7 linked regions of the Homo sapiens genome follow. The protein of the gene in region 7 interacts with the protein of the main gene of each other region in a pairwise test. Each region holds a gene or a part of one and is shown on either strand. Other genes may lie near its edges. The genes, in order: ZFAND3, DYM, TF, RPA2, SLCO3A1, KCNE3 and GOLM1.

Evidence for each region.
Region 1: the proteins of GOLM1 (region 7) and ZFAND3 interact in a two-hybrid assay, tested with the Homo sapiens proteins (one large-scale study listed by IntAct).
Region 2: the proteins of GOLM1 (region 7) and DYM interact in binary tests that used the Homo sapiens proteins (3 or more experiments, as listed by UniProt).
Region 3: the proteins of GOLM1 (region 7) and TF interact in binary tests that used the Homo sapiens proteins (3 or more experiments, as listed by UniProt).
Region 4: the proteins of GOLM1 (region 7) and RPA2 interact in a two-hybrid assay, tested with the Homo sapiens proteins (one large-scale study listed by BioGRID and IntAct).
Region 5: the proteins of GOLM1 (region 7) and SLCO3A1 interact in binary tests that used the Homo sapiens proteins (3 or more experiments, as listed by UniProt).
Region 6: the proteins of GOLM1 (region 7) and KCNE3 interact in a two-hybrid assay, tested with the Homo sapiens proteins (one large-scale study listed by BioGRID and IntAct).

The regions. Positions count from the first base shown.
Region 1 is NC_000006.12:38,151,490-38,155,476, reverse strand, and holds the end of ZFAND3 (AN1-type zinc finger protein 3), read right to left. Parts: intron 3,243-3,987; coding exon 3,088-3,242; 3' UTR 853-3,087; downstream 1-852.
Region 2 is NC_000018.10:49,373,456-49,377,544, forward strand, and holds part of DYM (dymeclin), read right to left. Parts: intron 1-4,089. UniProt on the Homo sapiens protein: Necessary for correct organization of Golgi apparatus. Involved in bone development.
Region 3 is NC_000003.12:133,773,567-133,777,655, reverse strand, and holds part of TF (serotransferrin isoform 1 precursor), read right to left. Parts: intron 2,224-4,089; coding exon 2,039-2,223; intron 608-2,038; coding exon 418-607; intron 1-417. UniProt on the Homo sapiens protein: Transferrins are iron binding transport proteins which can bind two Fe(3+) ions in association with the binding of an anion, usually bicarbonate.
Region 4 is NC_000001.11:27,907,802-27,911,890, forward strand, and holds part of RPA2 (replication protein A 32 kDa subunit), read right to left. Parts: intron 1-4,089. UniProt on the Homo sapiens protein: As part of the heterotrimeric replication protein A complex (RPA/RP-A), binds and stabilizes single-stranded DNA intermediates that form during DNA replication or upon DNA stress.
Region 5 is NC_000015.10:91,916,193-91,920,281, reverse strand, and holds part of SLCO3A1 (solute carrier organic anion transporter family member 3A1), read right to left. Parts: coding exon 3,824-4,089; intron 1-3,823. UniProt on the Homo sapiens protein: Putative organic anion antiporter with apparent broad substrate specificity.
Region 6 is NC_000011.10:74,457,258-74,461,346, forward strand, and holds part of KCNE3 (potassium voltage-gated channel subfamily E member 3), read right to left. Parts: intron 347-4,089; coding exon of another isoform or gene 307-346; coding exon 1-306. UniProt on the Homo sapiens protein: Ancillary protein that functions as a regulatory subunit of the voltage-gated potassium (Kv) channel complex composed of pore-forming and potassium-conducting alpha subunits and of regulatory beta subunits.
Region 7 is NC_000009.12:86,078,726-86,082,814, forward strand, and holds part of GOLM1 (Golgi membrane protein 1), read right to left. Parts: intron 617-4,089; 5' UTR 596-616; coding exon 467-595; intron 1-466.

The sequences.
Region 1 (3,987 bases), on a different chromosome or scaffold from region 7:
GTCTTCCCACCATCCCCTCTTCTTGCTGTGGACTGTTGTTGGCATAACAACAGTTATGTTGTTGCTGTGGACTGTTGCTCTGTGAAGCAATCAGGAAGGAGCTGACGCAGACCCAGTTCCTGTGGACCAGTGGGCAGAGCACAGCCCACTGCTCCCTGCAGGCCCGCCTCACACCCAGGCCACCAAGGCCCTCTCTTGCCCTTTGCCCCCGTGCTTGTTCATCGCCACTGGGCCTCTGATTTCCTCTGAGGATTTTCATCACGCTCATGACAACTATGCGGTCAATATCTCTGTCCTAAAAGAAGTGGGGACAGGTCCCACTCCTGTGCCTCGCCCCTGCCCTGCCAAATGTTTTTTGAACATTTAAAAATGTAGTTAAGTTCATCCTATACACCAAAGAGTGCCACAGCACACACCTCCTCCAAGCCAGCCTTTGGGAGCCTTCGTCATCCATCCTGGAGGCCCTTCCTAGGGTGGGGTTCGGGTCTAGGGCATGCTGCCTTCCCTCAGGACCCAGCACCCACCCCACCCACGCCTGGGGCCCTCAGGGCTGGGGCTCGTTTTCTGATCCCCCCCAGTGTGTAACCTCCTGGCTGCTGGCACAGGCTTGGCCCTGCAGACCCACCTTTACCCCAAGGCCAGTCCCGCAGCTTCCCAGGGCAGAGGCTCCCAACAGAAAGCAAGGAAGCGGCTGTTTAGCCTGGACACTAACTGGACGAGTGCCTCCAAGTACTGCAGACGGTCTCTGCACACAGGCCCCCATCTCTTTCCAGCCCTGGCCAGGGAGATGGGTCAGTTTTCCCAGCAACCCAGGGGGCACTTAGGAGAAGGGGTGAAACAAGAAAACCAAACTTTCATACGATTGGTTTAATTTTTTTTTTCAGCAGGAGAAAAAAGAATAAAGTTACAAGATTCTTTTAATATTTTCACAATGTTAAAACTAAAACTGAGCTCTAGGCTATGTGTGTAAGTAAATCTAGAACACAAAAGGGTTAAATAAGATTTTCTCTTTTAAAGATACAAGAATTTAAGCTTTCCTTACATTTAACAAACTTCACAGAACAGATACTGCAGGGGAACAAGCCCCACCCCCCACCCCCCCCAGCTCTAAGTCAGGAAGCGAACATGGGCTTCGCTCCCCCAGGCCAGCTCCCCTGGGCTCCTTCCCATGGCTGCCTCCACGCAGCAGGCAGAGGAGGGGGCGGGGGGCCCTGGGGAGGGCCGGGAAGGGCTCGCACAGCCTCTTCGGGACCAGAGCTTGGCGGAAGCCTATGGGGGGCTGCCTCACTGAGGATGGCCCGTATGGTGGCCAAGGGCTGTGGCTTGACAGCAGTGGTAAACGCTGGGCAGACCTGGCCCCTCTGCCCTGGGTTGCCCTAGAGCAAGACACCGGTCTGGGTCCTGAAGCAAGAATTAAGGCTGGGGATTTTGCAGCGGGTTCCACTCTGGTGGGTGGAGGGTGGGAAGAGCATGACTTCCTATTTCAGTACGTCGGATCAAAAAACATTTGCAGTTGCAGGTGTTCAGCTGTTAATTTGCAGACAGAGTTGAACCATTTGTTGTTTTATAAAAAGGAAAGTTGCTGGGTTAAACTATTCCAGTAGCCTATGTGTGGGCAGATCCACGCTGCCTCCGCAGGGGCCTCCTGCCCTCACCCACCTGGATCTGATGCGGCACTAGGACCACTGGGACTGCTCACCCTGCCTGGGCTTTCAAGGGAATCCTGATCCTGTCCACCCAGCCCCAGCCCCACCTGACTGGTAGTGATTTCCTAACATGGGGCAACCAGGCCCACCCCCACCCTTCCCCACCTGGCGTGCGCAGTTGCAGCTGCTGAAATCCTCTGTGAACATGAGGGGGCACAGGTGGAGAAATGTACCCTCAGGCCCTCACCTACCAGAGCAAATATCACTCTCGGAGCTGGGCCACAGCCACAAACCGCTGTTCTAGACAGATCCAAACCCACTGTCCCTGGGACGTATGCTGCCTTCCCTTACTAAACTTGCTATATGGTAGATGTGGACTGGGTGTCCTTGGACTATGGGGCTGCATAGAAACGAGAATGGAGGCCACGACATCATCCTCTTGGCCCCTGGAGGCACGGGCGGCTCCAGCTGGAAGGGGCAGAGCCCGTGGGCGGCAGCTTCCCCAGCTGCTGCTCCCAGCACTTCTACTGATTCTTGTTGGCTATGAAATGTCTTTTTAAAAAACTCCCAATATAGAAATCTGGCTGCAGAGGCCAGTGTGCAGACCCAGCCACCGCGCTGTGCTGCCATTCGCCACATCTGGTCCGTGCCAGATCCCTGCACTGGCGAATGGCAGACCAGAGCCGGCGGAGGCGGGGCACTCTGGCTGCTTCTCGTGACCTTGGATCCTGTGTAGAAAAGGCGGGTCTCGTTCGTGGACTAGTCTTGAGTGGAGCTAATTTTCAAAGTGAGGTTACTGTTTCTCTTCTTGTGTGATGAGTTTTTTCATAGCAAGTCAGGTAAAAAAATTTCCGTAAGAATCTGTCCCCCACCCCCCATTTCCAGCTCTGTGGGAGAGTGAGGCCACCACCCAGCCCAGCCACGTGGCCAATCTCAGCAGCCTCCCGTGGCCAAGGCACACGTGGCCATCAGGTATCCTGGCTACTGGGACTAAGGATAAGTGAAGAGGTGAAAGGCCGATCATTAAACAGAGTTTCTGGCAAAGCCATGTGCGTCGTGGGAACTTTAACACCAGCTTCTACTCCTCTATTAACTCAGAGTCTCCGTCTGGAACACTTTCCACTTAAGGCTTTTTATAAGTTTGACTCCAGCAGTGACAGGTATGTGTTGTTTTAAATCCACTAGCCATGCTCAAAAAAAAAATATTCTTCATGTTTTAATTTTATACAATGGCTAGCAGGCACCTTAGTAACCAGCCAGAAATCAATTTCAACCACCATCAACCCCTAAACTACAGTACCAGGATGGCTGGCTAAAGAAAGGAAACGGACTGGCTGCAGTCTGACGCGTGCCCAGTACAAGGTGTCTGGCTGACTTTGTCCTAAATAAGGCTAACATTAGTGAACTAAGAACAGCGTCACGTGGTGGCCATGCCTGGCCTTCAGGAGCACCCCTCCCCGATGCGCTGGCAGGAGCGCCCCACTTTCCGGTCCAGCTTCACCATTTTCATGATGGCTTCCTCCCGGCCACGGCCCATGTGGTCGAATGTGCAGTCGTGCTGCTCGGGGAGGCGATGTAACATACAGAACACATAACCTGCAGCAGCGGGAGAAGCAGAGGAAAGAGTGTGTTAGGGTGGCCTCCAAGTGCGCAGAGCCTCACAATTGCCTTTGTCCAGAGGATGGAGGGGCATCCCAGTGAGTGGACAACACTCACTGCAGGGGTTCCTGATGCAGCAGAGAGCTCACTCCAACACCTGCACCCTGGAGCAAGAGGGTCAGCACTTTGCATTCCACAGCTGCTCAAGCCTGTCCCTGCCTGGACCCTTGAAGGGTAGAACCCTAAGTTGATGGCTGCGAGACACAGCCCTGTCCTTGCAAATGAGTGGGCTCTGCGCTCCTCTCCAGCACCATGCAGGCGGAAGAGCACAGGCTGTCAGCTCAGCTCTCTGCTTGGCTCGGGCAAACTGTGATTTCCACCACAGGATGCCCACCATTTCTAGGAGGCAGGAGAAATGATTATGTCTTAAATGACATTCCACCTCCTGTACAGCCGGGGCTTGAGAGGATGGTGGGAGTGATCAAACCACAACCCAAAAATGAGTGGGAGCTCTCAAAGGAAAGTGGATTATTTCTAGTGCTAGAAAAAGTATTAGATAGAAACAGAGGAGACAGCAATGCTGGGCTCCAATCGCCATCTCCAAGGAATCTGACACTTCTAACTGCACTGGGTAGGTGAGAGAGGTTGAGATGCCCACACTCGGGCCCCCAGCTGTCCTTCCCTCCACTGGGTAGGTGAGAGAGGTTGAGATGCCCACACTCGGACCCCCAGCTGTCCTTCA
Region 2 (4,089 bases), on a different chromosome or scaffold from region 7:
GGCGCTGGTGGGAGTGTAGCAGTAAGGATGACCAGAGGTCACTCTCGTGGCCATTTTGGTTTTGGTGGGTTTTGGCTGGCTCCTTCACTGCAACTTGTTTTATCAGCAAGGTCTTCATGACTGGTATTTTGTGCCAACTTCCTATCTCATTCTGTGACTTAGAATGTCTTAACTGTCTGGGAATATAGCCTGGTAGGTTTCAACTTAATTTACCCAGCTCCTATTCAAGATGGAGTTGTTCTGGTTCCCATGCCTCTGACAATATCACGTTAAATAAAGTAAAAATATGCACATTTTGTAGGACATAATACAAAACAAAGTGCTGGGTTTGCAGGTATTGAGTGGGCTATGCTCTTGGGCCCTGTGAGGATAAACATTCACTCCATTCTTGCTGCTAGCACTTCATGGGAAGGTTTGCAACTTACCAAGCAGAACTATGTTTTTGGTACTACTGGCATCACAAACATGAAGGCCAGCATTAACAAAACTAACACACGCAAGACACAATTCTAATTAAAAGCTCTAACTTCAGACATCAGTATATATTTAAAAAATATAGAAGGCTAATGATCAAAATAGTAAATTAAACATATCCATCTCTTGAAACTCAAACTCAATGTATAAAGCACAAGCTCTGAAAATCATGCTAAATGATAAACAATAACTGTGAAAGATGATGGGGTGGTTTGGGAATAGTTAAATTAATTAGATTCTACATAATTCTCACAAATATTCTCTCCTAGAAAAAAATAAAGTATATAACATTCAAAATACCAAAATTCTGCAGTATCTCTCACACACCAACTTAGTTAACTTCCTCAAAATCCTTGATTAAGTCTATACTATAACATACAGTTATATGGTAGTCAGAGAACATAATGGTCAATCCCAAAAGAAGATCAAGACCAGCAAAAAATCTAGCTATATTCAGAAACAACTTAGAAGGTCTTATGTTCCTTTCCTACTTAGTGACTGAGAAAGAGACAGAAAATGTATTTTGCCTGTGAAAGTTTAGGGGGAAGAGGAAGCAGTACCTGTTTTTCCAGTACCACTAATCAAATGTGGAGTCAAAGGGACTTTTATTATTGAAATAAATTTTGGTGAAATGACAAATGCTCAATCTCTAAAAATATTAGGATGGTTCAGTTTGCTTCCTGTGCCTCAGCTCCCTTTTCCAAGGTAGCTTAATGAAAGGTAGCTTCAATAAAATTTGGCTGCCTAGGCCAGGCCCAGTGGCTCACACCTGTAATCCCAGCACTTTGGGAGGCCGAGGTGGGCAGATCACATGAGGTCAGGAGTTCAAGACCAGCCTGACCAACATGGTGAAACCCCTGTCTCTACTAAAAATACAAAAGTAACCGGGCATGGTGGCACATGCCTCTAATCCCAGATACTTGGGAGGCTGAGGTAGGAGAATCACCTGAACCCAGGAGGCGGAGGTTGCAGTGAGCCGAGATCGTTCCATTGCACTCCAACCAGGGCAACAAAAGTGAAACTGTCTCAAAAAAAAAAAAATTGGCTGCCTATCTTTTTTAGAGCAGAATCTCAAAAGTTCAACAGGAATTACTTCAGAGTAGAAAGCACAGAATCCAAGAAAGGAATGGCTGATCTACAGTGAAACTGGAGAGTTGTTTCCCCTGAGAAGACAAGGTAAACATTTTTATCCAAGGGAAATACTCGTGGGGCAGCCCCTAAACACCTGGGGCTCTCACAGTTACAAAGCGGGAAAGGGGAAAAGACACACACACACACACACACACACACACACACACACATCTATACCTACCTTGGGCTTTAGAAGAAAAAAATATATATATATAAACATATATACACATATATATATGTATATATACACACACACATATTCATTGTCATTTTATTCACCCTTTATAGGAAACTATTCTTAATAAATTATAACTTGGTACAGTATCTGAAATTTAACATTTTTTTAACAGCATCAAAGAGAATTTCAGTACCTATCCCCTTCCCCCTATCCCCCAAAGTTAATGAGGTAGTAATTCATACTAACTCAAAACTGGACAAAACAATAAGTGACCTTCCATGAAATGGTCTTCTGGGACAGAAGGGAAAATAAAAGATGACAGCAAATAAAACTGCTAAAATTGATATGCTTGCTTTATTCAAGAATAATAAAGTTATCCACATTTTAACTATGAAATGTAGAATAATACCTGAGATACTGTGATGGTTAATATCGAGTGTCAACTTGATCGGATTGAAAGATGCAAAGTACTGTTCCTGGATGTGTCTGTGAGGGTGTTGCCAAAGGAGATCAACGTTTGAGTCAGTGGACTGGGAGAGGCATACCCACCCTCAATCTGGGTGGGCACCATCTAATCAGCTGCCAGGACAAATAGAATAAAGCAGGCAGAAGAACATGGAAGGAACAGACTTGCTGAGTCTCCTGGCCTTCATCTTTCTCCCATGCTGGATGCTTCTTGCCCTCAAACACTGGACTCCAGATTCTTCTGTTTTTGGACCCTTGGACTTACACCAGTGGTTTGCCAGGGACTCTTGGGCCTTCAGACACAGACTGAAGGCTGCACTGTCAGCCCTACTTTTGAGGTTTTGGGACTCAAACTGGCTTCCTTGCTCCTCAGCTTGCACAGGGCCTATTGTGGCACTTCACGTTGTGATCATGTGAGTCACTACTCCTTAATAAACTCCCCTTCATATATACATCTATGCTATTTGTCCTGTCCCTCCAGAGAACCCTAATACAATAACTTTCAAAGAAAAGTAGAACATATGATTTCCCTTCCCTGCAACCAGCCAACTATGTCATCTGTTGGAAAGAAACTTTAGAACACTTACGAAACAAACTTAATTGTGATATTTTTAATTCAGTATGCTCTCAAGGATGAAACTTGAATTTAAATACACTCAACCATATTTGTCCAGTATCAGTAGAGGAAAACAAAAATGTTTCCACATAAACAGAAAACAAAAGATTGCTGATATCTTGCTCAAGCACAAACTAGAGTCTGCTCATCTATCTGCCTATTTGGGGACAGGGCATATGTAAACTGCAGCAAATTCCATTTAGTCTACAAACTTCTGACCAAAGAAAATGAAGAGCTCTTGCCTGCTAAATGTTCTGCATGCCTTGCACACAGCATTGCTATGAGGCAGTAGTTTCCTGCCCTGTGATGTTTGCCACCTTTCAGTTTTCTCAAAACCTGCAGAACTTAGTGAGATTCGGACCTTACAGAAATGAAAGGCGATAGACTCCTTGGACATGAACCTGCCAAATGGCTATCAAGGTGGCCAGTCACAGAAAAGCTGTTAAAATGTTAGAAGATGGTAAAATCGTATTTTCAAAGTGTGAGTCAAGAAGAATGTCCTTTTCTAATTTGGAAATACACTGAGGATAAGAATGAAGAAAAAGATTGCAGTAAAACAGAAATTCATATTCTATTTCTCCAAAACCGTTTCCTGATCTTGAAAGAGGCCATAAGGAGCCTAAAGAAGGATGAAATGACTGTCCTAAGTTGCTCAACAGTATGTGTAGAAAATTGCTCTACCATCAGGTAATGGGGTCTCAGAGGGAGAAGAGATAAATACACATGGTCACTCTGCTACTTGAGTTGAAAGTATTGTAAACTATTGTTTTCTTGTACCATGTCATTTCATTTGCTCAAAATGTAACATAATACCTTAATACATTTAAATGATATAACCAGAATTTCCATAAGATTTTTGCCATCTAAAAATAGTTTTAAGAAATGCTTGAATGCACAAAAGGTTAACTTTCCACAGAATCTTTTCTACTTCCCCATAATATTGTTTTTAAAAATTCTAGGCCGGGCACGGTGGCTCATGCCTGTAATCCCAGCACTTTGGAAGGCCAAGGTGGGTGGATCACTTGAGGTCAGGAGTTCAAGATCAGCCTGGCCAACATGCTGAAACCCCATCTCTACTAAAAATACAAAAATTAGCTGGGCTTGGTGGAATGCACCTGTAGTCCCAGCTACTCAGGAGGCTGAGACAGGAGAATTGCTTGAACTCAGGAGGCAGAGGCTGCAGTGAGCCAAGATCGCACCACTGCATTCCAGCCTGGGCAACAGA
Region 3 (4,089 bases), on a different chromosome or scaffold from region 7:
CAGCTAGGTGGGATTGAAGAAATACATCTTTTATTTAGTTTAATTTTAATTAACTTAAATTTAAATAGTCACATCTTGCTGGTGGCTACCATATTGGACAAGGCAACTCTAATCAAAAGTTTACTGCAGAGCAATGGCATGTACACATAAACCCAGTCCTTTTCTTAGAAATAAGATGGAATTCTCTATACCCAATAAGTTCACTACCTTAGTGCTCTGAGCCTGTATCCCCTTACTATCTGCCCCTACAGTCTAGCCTGTCATACATGCCGGGCTTAGATTGTTCACTCACCATTTCATTTTGTCCATGTTGTCCTATCCCAAGGGCCACAGCCTACCCCTCCTGTACCCACCCACCATCCCAGCACTCACCACCATGTTTGGTTGCCACTTCCCCATGCTGTTCCTCCTACTCACATGAGGTGGAGCATTTTCTCAGGTTACCAACAGCCTTGACATATTCTTCTCCTAAGTATTTTTCATATGTGTTTCTGTCATGAAGTTTGGCCAAACATACTGTGTCATCTCTGAACAGAAGGTCCTTGGTTTCCGACCGGAACAAACAAAAGTTGCCCGAGCAGTCAGTTACGTTGCTTCCAAATAGGTGCTGTCAAGTGAACAGAAAGTCCGTGAGGACCTTGTGGTCTTTAGCAGCTGGGAACACATGGATGAGAAGAGTCTGAAAGCTCTGAACCAGCCCTGGGGAAAAAGGGAAGCTACGGAGTATGTCTTGGGAATTTTCCACCTCCTTTATCTGCCATTTATCCACTTAGGGCCCCAGCTGCATGCTTTCATGATGCCCCCAAAATCATCTATAGGGTCCCTGGTCCCACCTTCCTCTGATAAGTCCCTCCCACCCACACCCATGCCTGCCTACTCTGACCTCTCTTCCCCACTTCATTGCCCTTCACTGGGGGCTGCTTATAGGAAATGAGAGGACAATAACATGTCCCTTCAGATGTTATTGTCAAAGAAGATGTTAAATGTGAACCCTCCCAGAGGAGTGGCAGAGGTAGTTCTTAAAAGTTCATGTTTGACTGCATTTTGAATCCTTTCTTGGGCAAGCCACTCAGCTTCTCCAGATCTCCAAAGGTTGTAAGTGAAATGATGACTGCAAAATGTTGAACTTTCCATATAGCAGCTAGGAAATGTATGTTAAATGCTTATTATTGTCATGTACCTTAAAAGGACTTCAAATATACTCTTATTTTTTTTAAAAAAAGGTAATGGTGAATCAACAGCAGGCAGCTATGCCCAAAAGGAAGGTGATGTGTGTGTGTGGAGGGGCCTTTAGGATTAGAATACTCAGGCAGCCCCTGTCTTCAACAAGGCTGGCCCTGAGTGGTTGTTCCCCCAGAGGGCAGGCTCTCCGAGGGCAAGGGTCCTGTGTTTTTCAGACTGTTGAGAACAGTGCTCAGTCTGCCTAGGCAAGAGGAACAGAAATCCACTCTTCATGACTCGTATCAACAAGCGCTGGGAAACAGGAGCTGTCTTCTTCATTTTCGGGAAGGACAGGAGTAGGGGAAATGAGGGTACCCCTGAACAAGGTTAGGGGGAGCAGAAAGGCAGATTCCTAGTCCCAAGAGTACATGGATCAGATCTAATCACCAGTGACCAGGAGCTAGAAGCAGAGCTGGGCCTGAGAGGTCTAGTTCCATAATTACACAGCTAACATATTTTGAGCACGTCCTATAGGAAATGGAATTTTCCTATGCCGTTTGGGTGCATGTCTTCACTTAATACTCATGTTAACTGAGAAGTAGGTAAAAATATTATTATTACAATTTTATATATGAGGAAGCTGAGGCATAGAGAGGTTATGTAACATACCCAAGATGGCACAACTAGGAAGCTGTGGAGCTGTGATTTGAACCCTGATACTCTAGTCCACAATGCATGGCATGAAATGCACAATGCATGGAATTCTAGTTTTCAAAAAGAAAGTGCTGGAGTCATGGCTGCACTTTGTTGTAAACTCCCCCCGAATAGCCTATGGCCATCTAGGAAGAAAAGGTGGGAGGACCTGGCTGGTCCATACCTGCTGTTGACGTAATATCTTGTGGACGCAAGCTTCCTTATCTTTCCGTGTGACCACAGCGTGATTCGGGGCTCTGGCCAGGTGGCAGTTCGCATACTCCTCCACAGGTTTCCTGGTACCATCAAGGCACAGCAACTCATAGTCTTTTTCATTCAGATTCTTAGCCCATGGATCAGGGTTTTTTCCTAGGGACAGGAAGAAGGTGGTTCAGCTGATGGCTTTGGTCAAGGTGCCCCGCTGGGGAGATGGAACTGACTCAGTGGTGTGTAGAGAACCTGGGCCTTCTCGCCAGCAGAAGTGCCCACACTGGGGTTACAGTGATGTGGACAGGAAGAGACACCCATGTGGTCTACAAGGTGATGCCAGACTCACAGTGACCAGGAATGATTATTGACCATCCCCTTCCAACCTTCCCTACCCAGCCAGGTGAGAATGAACTACATTCTGCAGATGCTGTTCAAAAAGATCTTCAATTCCACTAAATTCCAATTCCTTCTGTACCTCTTGCTCCAACAGAGGAAGAATGTGACGCTCTAAGCCAGGTTGATCAATTTCTGTGCTGTAACACATGGCATCTCCAAACAAAAGAACTTTTCCTCAGAGAACACCTTTGGAATCTGCACCAGAATTTTAAATCTGACTCCCTTGTTCCAGTTCTAAATGAGAATGTGCACACACCTGTGTGATACAGGTCTGTATCCCATCTCGGCCCCTTTGCCTCTTCTTTTCTGTATTGTCTCTGAAAAAAAAAAAAAACTCACCCATTCTTAGGGTTTCAGCTCCTTCCTCCTGAGCCACTTTGCAAATATGTTTTGCTAATTTTTATTTCTCTCCCATAATTCAGAATTGCAACCTTTTTAAAAATGTATTTTTCATTTAATTTTGTTTCTTTAACCGAATAACTAATACATGAGATCACACTCATAAATTTTTGAATATCTCTCTATATTAACTAAAAGCCTCCTTTCCTATACTCTCCAAATCTCACTCAGTCTTATAGTGCTAGTCTTTAATATCACATTTGCGAGTTTCCATCCACGGCTCATTATATGTATTTTTCTACGTGTGTATATGGATTTCACATGTTTCTAATTTTGTTTAGTGTTAGATCTTGACAAATGTAAAACTCTGTAGCTTTTTTTTCAACTGTTTACATACCTTATAGATTCTTCTTGTCAGTACATACAAATCAAGCTCGTTCTTCTTAACTACTGTATTATATTTCATAGTGTGGCTATAATAGTATCTTTAAACCATTCCTCTTTTAATAGGCATCTGAGGTGTTTACAATTTTTTGCCACTAAAGTAGCGTTAAAATGAGTGTTACTGGCATATAATTGTGCTTACATAGAAGTGGAATAGTTAGTTCAAAGGGTATATGTATTTTTATTTTATTTTATGTTATTTTATTCATTTATCTATGATACTATGTTCTCAGCCCTCTCCAAGGCACAATCTTATTGGAGGGGAAAATAACACACATACCAAAACAAAAAATTCAGGGCAGGGATAATAATATTTTATATTTTGTAAAACACTCTAGATGCTGTGTGAGCTCAAACCAGGGCTTTGAGAACAAATGAATTAAGAAGCTGGCTGGAGGAGGCAAGATTTCAGTTGTCTCTTATAGTGTGTGTAGGATGAGAGGAGGAGAAAGGAATGCCTCTCTGCGGGAGGAAAGGAGAGTGCAGGCGAGACTGGGGGCAGGTGTGTGCCTGGTGTTTCTAAGGGAGAGAGGAGACCGCCTCTGGAACCATCTCAGGCAGTAGGGTATGTGAGGCACTCAGGCAAGAGGAAAAGTGGGTTTGTGAGGACTTATGAATGGAAATTGATGTTAATGAATGAGCCAGAACCTAAAGGTAGAAAATTAAGAAAAATCAAATGGGAGGTGATTCAGTCTGGCTAGGAGGGCATCTAGAAGGGCATGTTAAAAATATGCTTTTTCAATAAAAATAATACACGTTTATTGGTGGAAATTTATAAAATGCCACGTAAGTATTGGGAAGAAAATTTTGAAGCATTTGTAATTTCATAGTCTACGCCTTCAAAAT
Region 4 (4,089 bases), on a different chromosome or scaffold from region 7:
AGCTCCTGGGGAAATGGAGTAAGAGCTTGGCCATGTTGGACATCTTTTTAAATTTTTTTTCTTTGAGACAGAGTTTCGCTCCTGTTGTCCAGGCTGGCATGCAATGGCGTGATCTCAGCTCACTGCAACCTCCGTCTCCCGGGCTCAAGCGATTCTCCTGGCTCAGCCTCCTGAGTAGCTGGGACTATATGTGCCAGCATTTTGCATTTTTAGTAGAGATGGGGTTTCACCATGTTGGCCAGGCTGGTCTGGAACTCTTGACCTCAGGTGATCTGCCCACCTCAGCCTCCCAAAGTGCTGGGATTACAGGTGTGAACCACTGCCCTCGGCCAAATTTTGTTTTGAGATGGGGTCTTGTTCTGTCACTCAGGCTGGAGTGCAGTGGCATTACAGCTCACTGCAGCCTCAAACTCATGGGCTCAAGCAATCTTCCTGCTATAGTCTCCTGAGTAGCTGGGACTACAGGCACACCACCACATCCAGTCAATTAAAAAAACATTTTTTTTTTTGTAGAGATGGGGTTTTGCTATGTTGCCCAGGCTGGTCTTAAACTCTTGGTCTCAAGTGATCCTCCGACCTTAGCCTCCCAGTGTTAGGATGACACACATAAACCACTGTGCTGGACTCATGTTGGACGTCTTAGGGGGAAGAGGCAGGATAGGGTAGGCAGAACAGTATCTAGTGAGCACACTCAAATTATATCTTTTTTTTTGAGATGGAGTCTCACTCTGTTGCCTAGGCTGGAGTGTGGTGGCGCGATCTCAGCTCACTACAACCTCAATCTCCTGGGTTCAAGCAATTCTCCTGTCTCAGCCCCCCCGAGTAGCTGGGATTATAGGTGCACGCCACCATGCCCAGCTAATTTTTCTATTTTTTTCTAGAGATGGGGTTTTGCCATGTTAGCCAGGCTGGTCTCGAACACCTGACCTCAGGCAATCTGCCCACCTCGGCCTCTCAAAGTGTTGGGATTATAGGCGTGAGCCACCGCGCCAGGCCCAAATCATATCTTAAAGCAGCCAGACAACAGTGTAAACTTATTTTTGCCTACCAGTGGCAAGAGGTAGTCTGGGTAACATGAAGATGAATATGATGGGACAGGATTTACCCTCAACATATTCCTAATCTAGGGGAGGTACAAAGGTAAACAATAAACCTGATCTTGATACACTGTAAAATGAAACATGCCATGTGGGACCTCAGAAAAGCTTACTGGCAAAAGAGGGAGGCTTTAGGCTGAACTCTGAAGCACGAGAATTTCAACAGCGAAAAAGTAGCAGGTAACAGGCTGAGGGCAAGTATGTACTCCCAGTCTCCTAGAGGGAATATGTACAAGGCACAAAAACGATGAGAGCTCTTCCTGTCAGAAGCCAAGAGGAAGTGGACCAATACCTGTACTACATGGAAGACTTAGAACACAGTAGACTCTTGGCCTTCATGGATTTAGCAGTCGCAACTCTGACCTGAACATCCACGACACTGCCAATATTTCATTTTGCTGAAGCATGATTGTGAATGGTGAGTATTGCCACAACAGGATAAAGCAAGCTCAGTCAACCGCTGGCACATATGCCACAAAAGGCAGCAGCCAAGCTTGAGGGTTAAGATTGTGGCTCTATTCTCAAGAGCAGCTGCTTGGCCAGGCGTGGTGGGTAACGCCTGTAATCCCAAGGCCGAGGCGGGCAGATCATTTGAGGTCAGGAGTTTGAGATCAAGCCTGGCCAACATGGCGAAACCCCATTTCTACTAAAAATTTAAAAAAAAAATTAGCCAGGTGTGGTGGCGCATGCCTGTAATCCCAGCTACTGGGGAGGCTGAGGCAGGAGAATCACTTGAACTCGGGAGGCGGAGGTTGCAGTGAGCCGAGATCATACCATTGCACTCCAGCCTGGGCAACAGAGACTCTCCTCAAAAAGAGAAAAAAAAAAAAGAGCGGTCGCTCTTGGTCACATGTATTAACTCATTTGTACCTCGGTTTCCTCATCTGCAAAACTAGGAATGATATTATAAAAATTACATGGTAAAGGACTCAGAATACTACCCAGCACAAAGCACTCAATAACAAATTTTAGCTATTATTATATTAGCTATTGTTCCTCATTCTTTACATTTGCAATAGCTTTTAATAACAACGTTGACAGGATCAACTTTTTCAATTTTACTTTATGGTATTTTATAGGTAAAGTTACATGCTATGTTAATATTTATAGTCTTAAAATTTGCAGGGGTCCCAGGATTTACCTCTCACAAACTACTATATTTCTGTTTTTACCTATCACAGCTGAGATTTTCATTGTATCTTCAGCATAAGAAAACTTAAGAACCAGTAAGGTAAAGTGGCAAGAACATGAGGTTTGGAGCCAGAGAGTCCTGTAGACCCATGCTCAAATCCCAGCTCCAAAGTCCTGGACACATGACCACCTTTTCTGAAAACTGGGGATATACACCTCTTAAGTTGTAAATGAGACACATAACATATATGAAGTGCTAATACCAATCTCTACATGTAGTAGATGTTTGACAAATATTATTACCTCTCAGGTAAAAATGTTACATATAGGTAACAGTTGAGATGTTAACAATGCCTTCAAATTCATCTCAAATCAAGTATTTATTTTTTATTGAGCATATATTTTATGTAGGAATTGATCACAAGGAATTCCTAGTCTGCTCCAAAGAGGTTCACAAAGTGTCAATAAAAATATGCTTAATTTTGGAAAAACAAAAACAAAAACACTTTCAAACTAAAAAAATTTTCATAGCTGACTATGAACCACAGACTACTCTGACAGTACTTCAGGAAAGTACCATTATTACAGATTAAAATTGGGTCGCTATTTGAAACTTCACATGGTTCAATCATATTGAACAAATACATAATCAACAGGAAACATTTTGGATAGAGTTCTTTATCACCCAGGGATGGTGCTGCACACCTGTAATCCTAGCTACTTGGGAGGCTGAGATGGGAGGATCCCTTGACCCCTGGAGTTAAGAGTCTGTGGTAAGCTATGACTGCACCACTGCACTCCAGCGGGGGTGAAAGTGAGACGGTCTCAATTTTAAAAGAAAAAAAGAATAGGGCGTTTACCTAACTTTTAACTGTGGAAAATACTAGATTTAAAAACAAAACAAGGCCAGGCGCAGTGGCTCATACCTGTAATCCCAACACTTTGGGAGGCCAAGAAGAGCAGATCGCCTGACGTCAGGAGTTTGAGACCAGCCTGACCAACGTGGCAAAACCCCGTCTCCACTGAAAATACAAAAATTGGCCAGGAATGGTGGCATGCGCCTGTAGTCACAGCTACTCGGGAGGCTGAGGCAGGAGAATCGCTTGAACCCAGGAGGTGGAGGTTGCAGTGAGCTGAGATTGTTCCACTGCACTCTGGCCTGGGCAACAGAGAGACTGTCTCAAAAAAAAAATAAAAATAAAAACAAAAAGACTGTCCGGGTGTGGTGGCTCATGCCTGTAATACCAGCACCACGGGAGGCAAGGGTGGGAGGACTGCTTTAGCCCAAGAGTTTGAGACCAGCCTGGGCAACATAGTGACACCCTGTCTCCACAAAAAGAAAAAAAAATTCAGAGACTGGGATTGAGTCTCCAACTTACAAGCATTATTCTCTGAAAAGCTATCTTAATACCCAGCTTTTAGGAATTCTGAGATAAAAATTATAATAACCAGAATGGAGAAAAATAGTTAAGCTTGGGAAGAAAAGATGAGAACCAATCATCTACCTTGTTTTCTCCTTCACAACCTCAAGAAAATCAGAATAGAGAATTAAAGTCCCTTGAGATCTTCTAGGAAAGAGAAAACTACAACAGGGAGAAGTTGCTGCTCATCAGATGTTGGATTTGTTCAGCATCATGTGCGTACTGTCTGATTCTAGTTCCTTACTAGCTATGTAAGCTTAGGCAGTCCCTTAATATACCTGAGTCTCTGTTAGTATGCTGGAATAAACAATAAATTCCTTACAGAATTACATAAAATAATTTATATGAAAGTTATAAAGCGGCCGGGCACGGTGGCTCACACCTGTAATCCCAGCACTTTGGGAGGCCGAGGCGGGCAGATCACGAGGTCAGGAGATCAA
Region 5 (4,089 bases), on a different chromosome or scaffold from region 7:
ACCCTTGAGCTCCCATCCCAGCCTCGTGAGCAGATCCCAGACATACCTGAAATAAGCATCACTTTCAGACCCACAGCCCAGCCCTATCCAGGTAAATGAGCTTGGGTAAGTTACTCAACCTCTCGGAATCACAGTTTACCTATCTGCTTTGTTTAAAACAGCAAATATTTTAAAAATCCATGTCCAACTATAGAAAGTATTAAATATTGTCGTATATATTCAGAAGGGATTATATATGCAGCAATGTCATAGAATAGTAACAAACAAATGCTCATGAAATAGTAAGAGAAATGAAATTACACAAAACATCATTTATCTTGAACACATTTTCATAGAAAAGCATGCTAATGCAGAAGAGAGAATAGAATTGTGTACACCATAAAGCTACAATATTCTCTAATTATTCTTTTTCTACATATTCAAAATTGTAAACGGTGAACATGTAATGCTTTTTAACTAGGAATAAAGTTATTGAGAAATCTTTAGTACTCCCATTTCACCTTTTCCTCCTTGAAAAAAAAAAGGGGGGCAACCTAATGAAAGGGCACAGTAAGCCCATTCCATCATCCTACTTACACTTTCATAAAAAGCAAATACGACTTGTGTTCTGAACTTAGAGAAACAGAAGGACAGCTAAGAAAACTGGGCTAATGGAAGATCACAACATGGAGCTAGAGGCATGACTAGACTCCCAAAGAATGGATTCTCCGACCTCAGTAGGGGCCCAGTGGTCTCCACTGCCACTGCGCCCATGTAGTCACTCTAGGAACAAAGAGTGCCACGTGCCACCCACGGGTCACCGTCTGGCTGCACTGTGAGTCCGGGTGCCGCATGATGCCGCAGTGAAAGCCTGCCAGCAGAGCCGAGTCCCCATTCATCCAGTTTTGTCCCCTGGTAATGAGCTCCCTTGGCTCCCTCCCACACTGGAAAGGACGGGCTGAAGAATGGTGCCAGCCAGAGGAGCCCCTTGTGAATAGCCCATCCAGGAATCCAGGAATCTGGCAGCGGCTCAGCCACAAGAGGCCAAAGCAAGTAAGTCATTTCAGTGGAAAATATCGGCTTGATTCAAGATGGAATGCTTCACTTTGCCCTGGGTTGTAGTGGAAGCTACGACACGGCCACCGATGTACAAACAGCACCCATCTAGTGACCCACAATGCGGGTGACCCGGGGCAGGTGTCATCACCACTGATCTGCAGCCTGAGCTGTGCATGTTGATCATTCTGTTCCCTGCTGACACCCAAAGGGAAGGCTCAGCTCAAGAACAAGCTGGTGTTTTACACATGCCATATTTAGAATCCTTTCAATCTCCACTATAGTGTCACGATTTAGGCATATGACCAGACAATTGGTTGTGGGCCCCTCTCTAGACCAACTCTGCAGGAGCTGGAACCAGGGGTACACATGTTATTCCTCCCCGATGGATATACAGTTACACCTACAGTCCCAGCATCAGTCCCTTGAGACTTTCCTCCTCTTCAGGGAGTTAAGAGGCCAGAATTTTATATCAATCCTGTTCAGTGGGCTACCCCAAATACTGTGAAGTAAAGTTAAGTGGCTTCAGGAACTAGTGCCATATTAGAGGAGATAAACTCTGAAATATTCTCACTACCACAAACACTTTTTTTATAGCTCATACAATAAATAAATGAACCAGTTATACTCTGCATATGCTATGATCTTAAATTATACCTGGAGAATAAACCACATATGGAATAAAAGGCCCCCTATTGAGGCCAATCTATGCAAAAGACTTGTCCTCTCCTGATCCCGATAAACACAAACCCATGTAAACCAGTGCAGAGAAACCCAGAACTATCATCTCCATGGCATGGGCTACGATGTTTTGGAATCTGGCCATATGTAACAGAGCCACCAAGATGTTCGTATGTCATGCAAAGAGACACTCCCCCAACTCAGACTTATCACAGAGGAATGGGGTGACCAAATAGAAATTTGGCTGAATAGTTCTTCCTACCAAAGACTCAATGCAAATCCCACAGACAAGGCCTCAGAATTCAAGAAGGCCTTCTGCCTCAAATGATCAGCCCTACTGTCCACGCCTCCACCTCCCACACCCCCATGTCCCAAACCAAAGTGCTTCCTCACCATAAAGCTTTTGGCACATTCAAACCAACCCTCACCCAGTGTGGGGAAACAGCACAGCTTAACTCATCAGGAGACACTTCCAGAAGAGGGTTCAGTGACTACGGCTGGAAGCCCCAGGCAGAAGTGATACAGCACTGTTAGGACTTCAGGGGTGACTCTGGGGAGAAATTTTTCTACTTGATTCTATCAGCAGAGACAACAATTCAGGTTTTCACTCCCCATTTCATTCCCTGTGCTCTGATTGATCTACTTCCTGTTATTCCTACCAGAAAACAACTCTCCCAGAGCCCTAGGGTGACATCAGTCAAGTCAGAGGGTGGACCTCAGGAGACCTTTGTGGCTACATGCTGTAGTCCATGATCTGGTGTGCAAAAAACTCACGTGGAGCGGCTTTCACTCAAGACTTAAGGCAATGAAAGAAAAATGATTACCTTAGTTTCCCTTCCTCCACCATAACCACTCTCAGGTAATAATGGAAACCCCTAACCATCTCTGGCCTGAGCCGTTTTCTCTTCCCCTTTGTTCCATAGGTAGCTGGTGACTAGGCTCACTGGTGCTCCATCCTCTGAATGGAGAGGCGCATTCCTTCCATCTTTCCTGCCCAGAGCCTGCTCACAGCCAGCCAGAACATCCGCGTGCAACATCCGTGTTCAGTAAACGCGTCTACTCCAAAGCTGGGCCAGAAAGACACAGAGAAAAATCTGCATTTCGGTGTGTCCTGCTTCCAAACCATCCTATCTCAGCAAGCTTGAAGCCTGGCAGATAGGAACCTTTATGTCAAATCCAGTTCAAATTCTATTTTCACTTAAAACTCCATAATATAATTAACTTTCTACCTCAAGGCACATTGCTTTTGGGAGGCATAAAGCTTCCCTGGGTAGAGGTAATGTTTTCAAAGCTTAGCACTCAGTGACTGGGGATGTCAGAAAAATCCAGCAGCTGGCAGGAGACAGAATTATACTTTGTAAACAAGGGATAGAGATGCGGGGCTGGCCAGCCCTCACCTTGCACGCTGCCATCCAACAGAGCCCACCGCAGCCACTGAAAACACTGCCCGCCACGTAATAAACAACTTGCCACTCAGATGATTCTTAACCCCCACGCACAAGTGGTTTCCATCCTTCCAGTATAAAACATCAGAAACTCTGACCGTGAAAAATAACTTTTCAAAACACAAATACCTTATTTCTCTCTACATACCCAATTCCCATGCATACTTCCATTATTGAAAAAATTACCGGAAGTCACCAACTTCGAATGATGCCAAATGCTGGCAAAGCCATCACCTCTCCTTTTGAGCTGCAACAGGACAATGACCAGGACATCATTCTGATTCTTCAAAGCTGGAGTTTCCAATGTGTAGACCCCAAGTATACCTTGGTGGCTAATATCAGAAAGCCCAAAGTCCACATACGCACTCAAAAAGAAGAGATAAACATACAACTCCTCCCGATCATGTTTTCCCACTGAAGCGGTGTTAGTGGTCTAGCCCCGTGGAGCTCAAATTCGGCCGCTCACAAGAATCACCTGGGAACTTTTAAAAACGTCTCAATGCCCAGGTTGCACCCCCAGGCATGAGTATTTTTCAAGAACACTAGGTGTGCAGCCAAGTCTGAGAACCAGTACTCTGGCAAAATCAAAGTCCACCAGGCCACCTTTTATCCATGGTCAACACACCCTGGTCTCTTGCTAATACGGCTGGGGCAGCTCCTACCTATATAGAGCGAGGAGTCCTTCCTCCGCACGTGGTCGTCGATGTAGGAGACGCCCAGGGGCTGCACAGGGGTAGCACCGATGCCCAGGAGCACCTGGGCCCCAATGAGCAGCAAGTACATCATGTTGGTAGCCGTCCGGTTGCGGCAGATGAGGTCGGGGTCGGGCCCCTCGTCGCCGCCCGAGCCGTTGGCTGCGCAGACGTCGCGGCCCTCGGCGCCCCAGCGGATCTCGCCCGCCTCGTACTTGTACTGGTGGGTCAGGAAC
Region 6 (4,089 bases), on a different chromosome or scaffold from region 7:
CATAGACACACGGTTCTTGATATACACATGATAGGGGTCACTACGCTTGTCCACTTTGCGGGAGCGGGTGTATCCCAGGATGAGGCTGCCCACAGTTACAGCAAATAGAAACATGACAAAGAGAATGTACATGTAGGAGTTGTCATCACGGCCAGGTAGGCTGGCCCGCCTCTCTTCAGTCTGGTTGTCTGGCCCCAGCCCTGGCCCTGGCCGGCAGAGCAAATTGCTGTGAAGAGTGGCATTTAGAGCCTTCAGCACGGCATGCAGGCTCTCATACCAGGTCTCCGTTCCATTGGTAGTCTCCATAGCAACAGGGATTGAGGTGGGGGAAGACTCGGTAGAAGCTCTGGTGGCAAAAGAAAAGAGAGAGGGGATGGCTCTGTCACCTGCAGCTCAAATGACCTCCTCCCTTCAGATCCCAGGTAAAATCTTAGCATCATGGCTGATATGGTTTGGCTGTGTCCCCACCCAAATCTCATCTGGAATCATAGCTCCCATAATCCCCATGTGTCATGGGAGGGACCCAGTAGGAGGTAACTGAATCATGGGGGTGGGTTTTTCCCATGCTGTTCTCATGATAGTGAATAAGTCTCACGAGATCTGATGGTTTAGAAAGGGCAGTTCCCCTGCACCTGCTCTCTTGCCTGCCACTGTTTAAGATGTGCCTTTGCTCCTCCTTTGCCTTCTGCCGTGATTGTGAGGCCTACCCAGCCGTGTGGAACTGTGAGTCCATTAAACTTCTTTTTCTTTATAAACTACCCAGGCTCAGGTATTTCTTCATGGCAGTATGAAAATGGACTAATACAATAGCTTATTCTAGCTGCTTGATTACATGTTTGTCTTCTCCATTAGACCATACACTAAACAATAAGGGCAGGGCCTATATTTGTTTTACTCACTGCTATATGCAATCACTTATGACAGCATTCAATAAGTAAGTACTCAATAAATAATTGTACAACAAAGCCTTCCCTGACCATCAGAACCCATATTAATCTCTCCTTTCTTTGGTTTCTATAAATCACTGAACTTTAGATTAGAAGGAACTTAAGGATTATTTAATATAACTCTTGCCATTTTATACACAGGGAAACTGAGGCCTTGAGAGAATAAGTGGCTTGTCCATGATCACAGAATATTGGAAGTAGAGCCAAGACAGAAAGCCCTGCTCTTTGTGGCTAGCTTAGAGCTGCTTCCACTTCCATGCTAGCTCTCAGCAGGACTGTGCAGCACCATTAGAAGACATTCATCACAACTCTCCTTGAGCACAGTTCTCTTTAGACTGCACAGACAGGTTGGGCACAGTGGCTCACGCCTGTAATCCCAGCACTTTGGGAGGCTGAGGCGGGTGGGATCACTTGAGATCAGGAGTTGGAGACCAGCCTGGCAAATGTGGTGAAACCCGTCTCTACTAAAAATACAAAAATTAGCTGGGCGTGGTGGTGAGCGCTTGGTAATCCCAGCTACTTGGGAGGCTGAGGCAGGAGAATCACTTGGACTCAGAAGGTGGAGGTTGCAGTGAGCCAAGATAGAGCCACTGCACTCCAGCCTGGGCCACAGAGCGTGACTTTGTCTCAAAAGAAAAAAAAAAAAAGACTCCACGGACACCTTTTGGAAGACACCTGGGGATGGTTTAAATTTCATCCTGCCTGGAGGCCAGAAGCTGGATCATTTGCCCTCTCAAGCATCCTGTGTCCCAAAGACTAGATATTCCTAGCTATTTGTAGAAATTCTGTTGGAAAGAGGTGGTCAGGGAAACGGGAACAGGTTGGTAACCACTGCAGGCACTGGAGAAGAGAACAGCAGCTTGGGCCTGAGGGCGGGAGAGTGAAAGGAGTTCTCAGTCTGGCTTGGGGTTTACCTGCCCACAAAAAGAAGACACAAGCACGCCAACTATCTTGTCTCCTGAAATAAAGTCATTATGTACCTGGCATATAGTAAGTGATTATAAATGTTCCTTTCCCTTCTTCTCAGAGATCCTTAGTCTATAATATAGAAAACATTTTTTTTTTTTTTTTTTTTGAGACGGAGTCTCACTCTGTCGCCCAGGCTGCAGTGCAGTGGCGCAATCTCGGCTCACTGCAAGTTCCGCCTCCTGGGTTCACGCCATTCTCCTGCCTCAGCCTCCCCAGTAGCTGGGACTACAGGCGCCCGCCATCACGCCAGGCTAATTTTTTTGTATTTTTAGTAGAGACAGGGTTTCACCATGTTAGCCAGGATGGTCTCGATCTCCTGACTTTGTGATTCGCCCACCTCGGCCTCCCAAAGTGCTGGGATTACAGGCGCCCAGCCAGAAAGAACATCTTAAAACAGACTTGCATCCTTGTCTCTGAAAAACCATATGTAATTCCCTATAAACAAGGCCCCACACTCACTTCCTTTAGGAAGCCTCCATTCAGTGCTCCCCACCTCTCAGCCACACTACACTGCCTTTATCATCACAGCCTTCCCTTCCCCCCAGCACTTACATATAAGGCAATATGTGGCTGTCCTCTTGTTTTTGATAAGGATATCATCAGACCACATGCGTCTGGTCAGCAGGGCTATGTCTCTTACCCCAGTCTGGAGGACTACCCTGAGACTGGGTGTTCTCCTTTCCCAGGGCACTACCTTGAGACTGGCTGGGTATTCCCTTTTTCTAGATTGGCTGGGTGCTCTCCTTCTCTCAATAGTTTCTAGTAGAGATGTTCACTTTAAGGAATTCTCTATGGGCCAAGCATTCAGTCCTCCATCATATGGGTAGAACTGTTAACAAACTAATATGTGACTATTAACCATAAGATCTCTTCCCTGGAAAAGATGATCATTCTGACTATGAAAAATATTCATCAATGGCTCTATGAACACAATCAGCCAGGACTGGGCAGCATTTCATGCAAGGCCTTTGGGGCCTTCTGACATCTAGTACTTGTGCTGCCTTGTCTGGATGGAGGAGGGGAAAAGAACAAGAGCTCACTGAGTTAAGATCCAGGAGATACACGTTCTCATCTACTACCCCATGTGTCAGGCAAGAACTCTGTGGCTGCTGCTTCCCTCGTGTGGGCCAATAGCAAGTAGGAGCAGCATGATGAAATAAATAACTCAAAAAATAATCTAGATAGTTATCACCAATATGGGCCACACCCTGTGATGGGAGTTCGGGGTGGCTCAGATCCAGTGCCTTCGCCCAGGGGCTCTGATACAATGCAGGGGACAAGCAAAGAGCTACTAAGGCTGAAAGGAATAAGTGATGGATACTGATCAGGGCTCAGAGAGTGTCCACAGTGATGGAGGCATTTGAGTTGGACCTTGAAGGGTTTTTAAGAGGCAGAAAAGATGAAGGAAACATGAGCAAAGGCAGAACAAGAAAGTGTGTAAATGTTTAGAAGAATGGAAAGTAGCATAAAGAGGTTGGAGTGTAAGATGTGTGGAAGAATAGTGTAGGATGTGGGGCAGGAGAGAGAGGATCCAGATCATGGGGGGCCTTGAGTGCCACGCTGTAGAGTTGGAACTTTATTCTGTAGCTAGGGAAAAGCCATGGAATGGTATCTTAAAAGAAGATAAAATGGTCAGATCTGTGCCTGGAAAGGATACTCTGGCTGTCATGTGGACTGGAGGGAGCTGGAATTGAGGCAGTGAGCCCAGCTACCAGAGTCTTGAAATAGTTTAGTGTAAGATGCTGAGTCATGAATTGGGGCAGAGAGGATAACAAAGTAGGGAAGTGGGGGTAGAGACAGTCGTAAGACCTGAGGAGGAAATGGCTAAGTGAGGGTTGAAGGAGGAAGGGGCCTCAGGCAATTTCATAGGTAGACAACAAACAAACAGTGTAAGTGTCTTGATGAGCCTACTCTGAAGGAAATAAGTTCCTTTCCCTGGGTGGGCTTTGGTTTCCTCATCTACCAAAAGACATTATCATGGAGTTGTTGTATGGTAGGTATAGAGTTTCAATTTTACAAGATGAGGAGATTCTGGGGATCTGCTGCACAACAAGGTGAATCTAGTTAACACTACTGAGTGTACACTCAAGAATGACTAAGATGGTATATTTTTATGTTTTGTGTGTGTGTGTGTGTGTGTGTGTGTGTGTGTTTTAAGCACAATTTTAAAAAA
Region 7 (4,089 bases):
GGAAGTTAAAATTATTATTATCATTAAGTAATGAAGATAAAGATTGGTACCTTTAAAAACATATTTCTTACACCCATCATCCAAGCACACTTCCAATACTACTCTTCGATATCTTGGGCGCCGGAGGACCGCAAACAACGGACTATGGCCAGTGTATGTAAGCAAGCTGTCTTCCCAGAACCACCCCAGTAGCTCAAATGAATGCTGTTAACTCACAGGAAAGGCAGGGAGGGATACCACAACCGCAATCCTACACAACCACAGAGGGGACCTCTCCCACCCAAAGCTGCTTGGGGTCTGGCCCAGGGCTGTGGGGGTGTGCAGAGCCCTAAACTCACCTTACAAGCGTGTGCCCTGCACAAAACGCCCTGGCTGGCAATAAACAACAAACCCCTGGGACCCCATCATAACAAAATAAACAAAACATAAACATAAAATAAACATAACAATAAAGAAAACAAAACACCTGGAGGTCCACGCTCCGGGAGCTCGCAATCCAGTAGTTGAAGCCCAAGACGATGATGCAGGCCACCAGGGCGGCCAGCACGAGGGGCGGCGACTTCATGCTGCGACGCCCGTTTCCCAAGCCCATCATCTCAAAATCAGCGCTGAGAATCTGCCAAGTAAAAGCAAATAAATAAACATCAATACTAGTTTTATCATCTCCGAAGCAGACCGTATCATCCTTACAACCAAGAGGAAAGGAGTCTTGCCAAGAAGCGTGGGCTGGTAGCTTCTCCTTGACGTGCAAAGCTGTCAAGGGAGAAGAGTATGTGAACGGCACGCACAGAGCCCATGGTGCTGTGAACCCAGGGCAGTGTGGCCAGTTCCCAGGACAGGCTCGGAGGAGCAGGCACCGCCCCGAAACCTGCCACAGATTAGCTCGAGACCTGGGGCAAGACATGATTCCTCTTACACTTCAGATTCCTCCCTTGTAAAATCATTACCATACTCACCTTCCCGGCATAGTTTGAGAATTAATCATTTCTGTAAGCAGCAATGTTTGAGAAGTAATCATTTCTGTAAACACCAATAACAAATATTAAGTGCTTCCGCATCATATTAGAAAGAGTATATTCCTCATTACTCCTCAGAGAGAGCTTTTTGCTTTGATTCCTAACAAGGGAGGTTTTTTTTACCCTTGACAGGATTACTAATGACACCCAATTAAAGCATTTCTCAAGCAAAGCAGGAAACCCATTCTGGAGGTGAATGTGAACTCCCCCCCATGTACATCATTATTCAGGCACAGCCCTGGCTATAGAAGTGTCTCCTCCTTCATGACACACAACGGAAGTGGGAGGTGTGCCATCTGCCTGAAGTCACCAGGAAAAATGTGTTCCATCTTAGGATTTGAGGTGGAAACAAGGCATTCACTCCATGCCAAACGAGAGCACCTTCTTTCGAACATTCATTTCTCACTTTAGGGACCGTATCTGTGCAACTGCTGCATTGTACACCTCATGTTAGGAAAAACAGTGCCTCTGTGTGAGAGCTACAGAGTGCACAAAAATACAGCTTAGAAGAAAGATGCCATAAATTTTGTTAATGGGCTTCAATTCAAAGCCAGGTCTGCCTGGATGCAAGCACTGGTCTCTAGGAACAAGGAAAGTAGACTTTTCCAAATGGCTTTTCCCAAGCCAGATAAAACAGAACCTTATCAGAGTGAGCGTGGCTGCACTGCAACAAACAGCCTTTGAGCACAGAGAGCCTTTTACACCAGGGGTGTCTAGCAACAGAGGAGGAAAGGGGATGGTGGGCAAAAAAGACAAGGGACGGGTAAGGAAGAGGATACCACCAAGGATTCACCTGCAAAACCCAATTCTCACCAGTGAGAACATGGGAGAACTGATCCTCACCCTATGGTCTTTTCAGGTGGGTCACCAAAAGGCTTCTTTTTTCTTAACAGCTAGCTACTAGTATGGGGGCCTGCCAGGGGATAAAGAAGCAATCTAGCCGAATCATCTAAAATAAAGCACCCCCAGAATTCCCACGGGTGGAAATTCTGACCTGTGCTCATGTCTTACCAGCTTCTGGCCTCTCAGGATGAAAGGGGAAACCACGTTTTTCTTTCAATTATCAGCTGATATCAGCAAGCACTGAATATACTCAAGAGACTCTTGATCACAAGAGTCTCTTTTTTGACTCTTAAACTTTTTAAAATTTTTGTTTATTTATTTTAGAGACAGGGTCTCTGTCGCCCAGGGTGGAGTCAGTCACGCAATTGTGGCTCACTGAAGCCTCAAACTCTTGGGCTCAAATAATCCTCCTGCCCTCAACCTCTCAAGTAGCTGGGACTACAGACATGGGCCACCATGCCCAGCTAATTTTTTAAAACAATTTTTGTACAGACAGGGTCTCACTATTGCCTAGGTTGGCCTCAAATTCCTGACCTCAAGTGATCCTCCCATCTGGGCCCCTCAAAGTACTGGGATTACAGGTATGAGCCAGTGCACCCAGCCTCAATGATTTTTTTTTTTTTTTTTTTGAGACGGAGTTTCGCTCTTGTTTTCCAGGCTGGAGTGCAATGGTGTGATCTCAGCTCACTACAACCTCTGCCTCCCGGGTTAAAGCGATTCTCCTGCCTCAGCTTCCCGAGTAGCTGGGATTACAGGCATGCACCACCACGGCCAGCTAATTTTGTATTTTTAGTAGAGACGGGGTTTCTCCATGTTGGTCAGGCTGGTCTGGAACTCCCAACCTCAGGTGATCCGTCTGCCTCGTTCTCCCAAAGTGCTGGGAATATAGGCATGAGCCACCGTGCCCAGCTAACCTTGTTTTTAAAATATAAAAGTACAAATACAAGAGGGGGTGGCAGGGACTTTTCCAAATGGCTTTTGCTAAGGAAAAAATAGGAAACTACACACAGTAGAGTATAAATTGGTCGGGTGCAGTGGCTCATGCCTGTAATCCCAGCACTTTGGGAGGCCAAGGCAGGTAGATGGCCTGAAGTCAGGAATTTGAGACCAGCCTGGCCAACGTGGTGAAACTCCATCTCTACTAAAAATACAAAAGCAGCCAGGCATGGTGGCACATGCCTGTAGTCCCAGCTACTCAAGAGGCTGAGACAGGAGAAAAGCTTGAACCCATGAGGCGGAGCTTGCAGTGAGCCAAGATGACACCACTGCACTCCAGCCTGGGCGACAGAGCGAGACTCTGATTAAAAAAAAAAAAGAAAAAAGGATAAATTACATCCCCCTCATCCTACTCCAAAGGAAAGGGATAACATTTTCTAACATCTGGGTCCTTCTGTTCCAGTGGTCCTCAACACTCAAGGGGCATCAGCATCACCTGGGACACTTTTTTTTTTTTTTTTTTTTTGAGATGGAGTCTCTCTCTGTTGCCCAGGCTGGAGTGCAGTGGCGTGATCTAGGTTCACTGCAAGCTCCGCCTCCCAGGTTCATGCCATTCTCCTGCCTCAGCCTCCCGAGTAGCTGGGACTACAGGCACCTGCCACCACACCTGGCTAATTTTTTGTAGTTTTAGTAGAGACGAAGTTCCCCCATTAGCCAGGATGGTCTTGATCTCCTGACCTTGTGATCCGCCCGCCTCGGCCTCCCAAAGTGCTGGGATTACAGGCATGAGCCACCGTGCCCAGCCTGACACTTTTTAAAATATCAATACCTGGGCTCCACCACTGCATTTCTTTTCTTTCCTTTTTTTTTTTTCTTGAGACAGGGTCTCACTCTGTTGCTCAGGCTGACACACTCACTCTGTCACCCAGGCTGAAATAGCTGCCTAGTGGTGTGATCCCAGCCTCAACTCCTGGGCTCAAGTGATCCTCCCACCTCAGCTTCCCCAACTTCCTGGGCTCAAGTGATCCTCCCACTTCAGCTTCCCAAGTAGCTGGGACTACAGGTGTGTGCCACCACGCCCAGCTAATTTTTTCTATTTTTGTAGAGATGGGGTCTCACTATGTTGCTCAAGCTGGTCTCAAACTCCTGGGCTCAGTGATCCTCCCGCCTCAGCCTCCTAAAGTGCTGGGAGTACAGGCGTGAGCCATCACACCTGGCCCCCAGCCCTGCATTTCTAATTCAATGGGGTTTAGGGCAAGGCCCGGATATTTGTATTTTTTAACCTCCCCAGGTG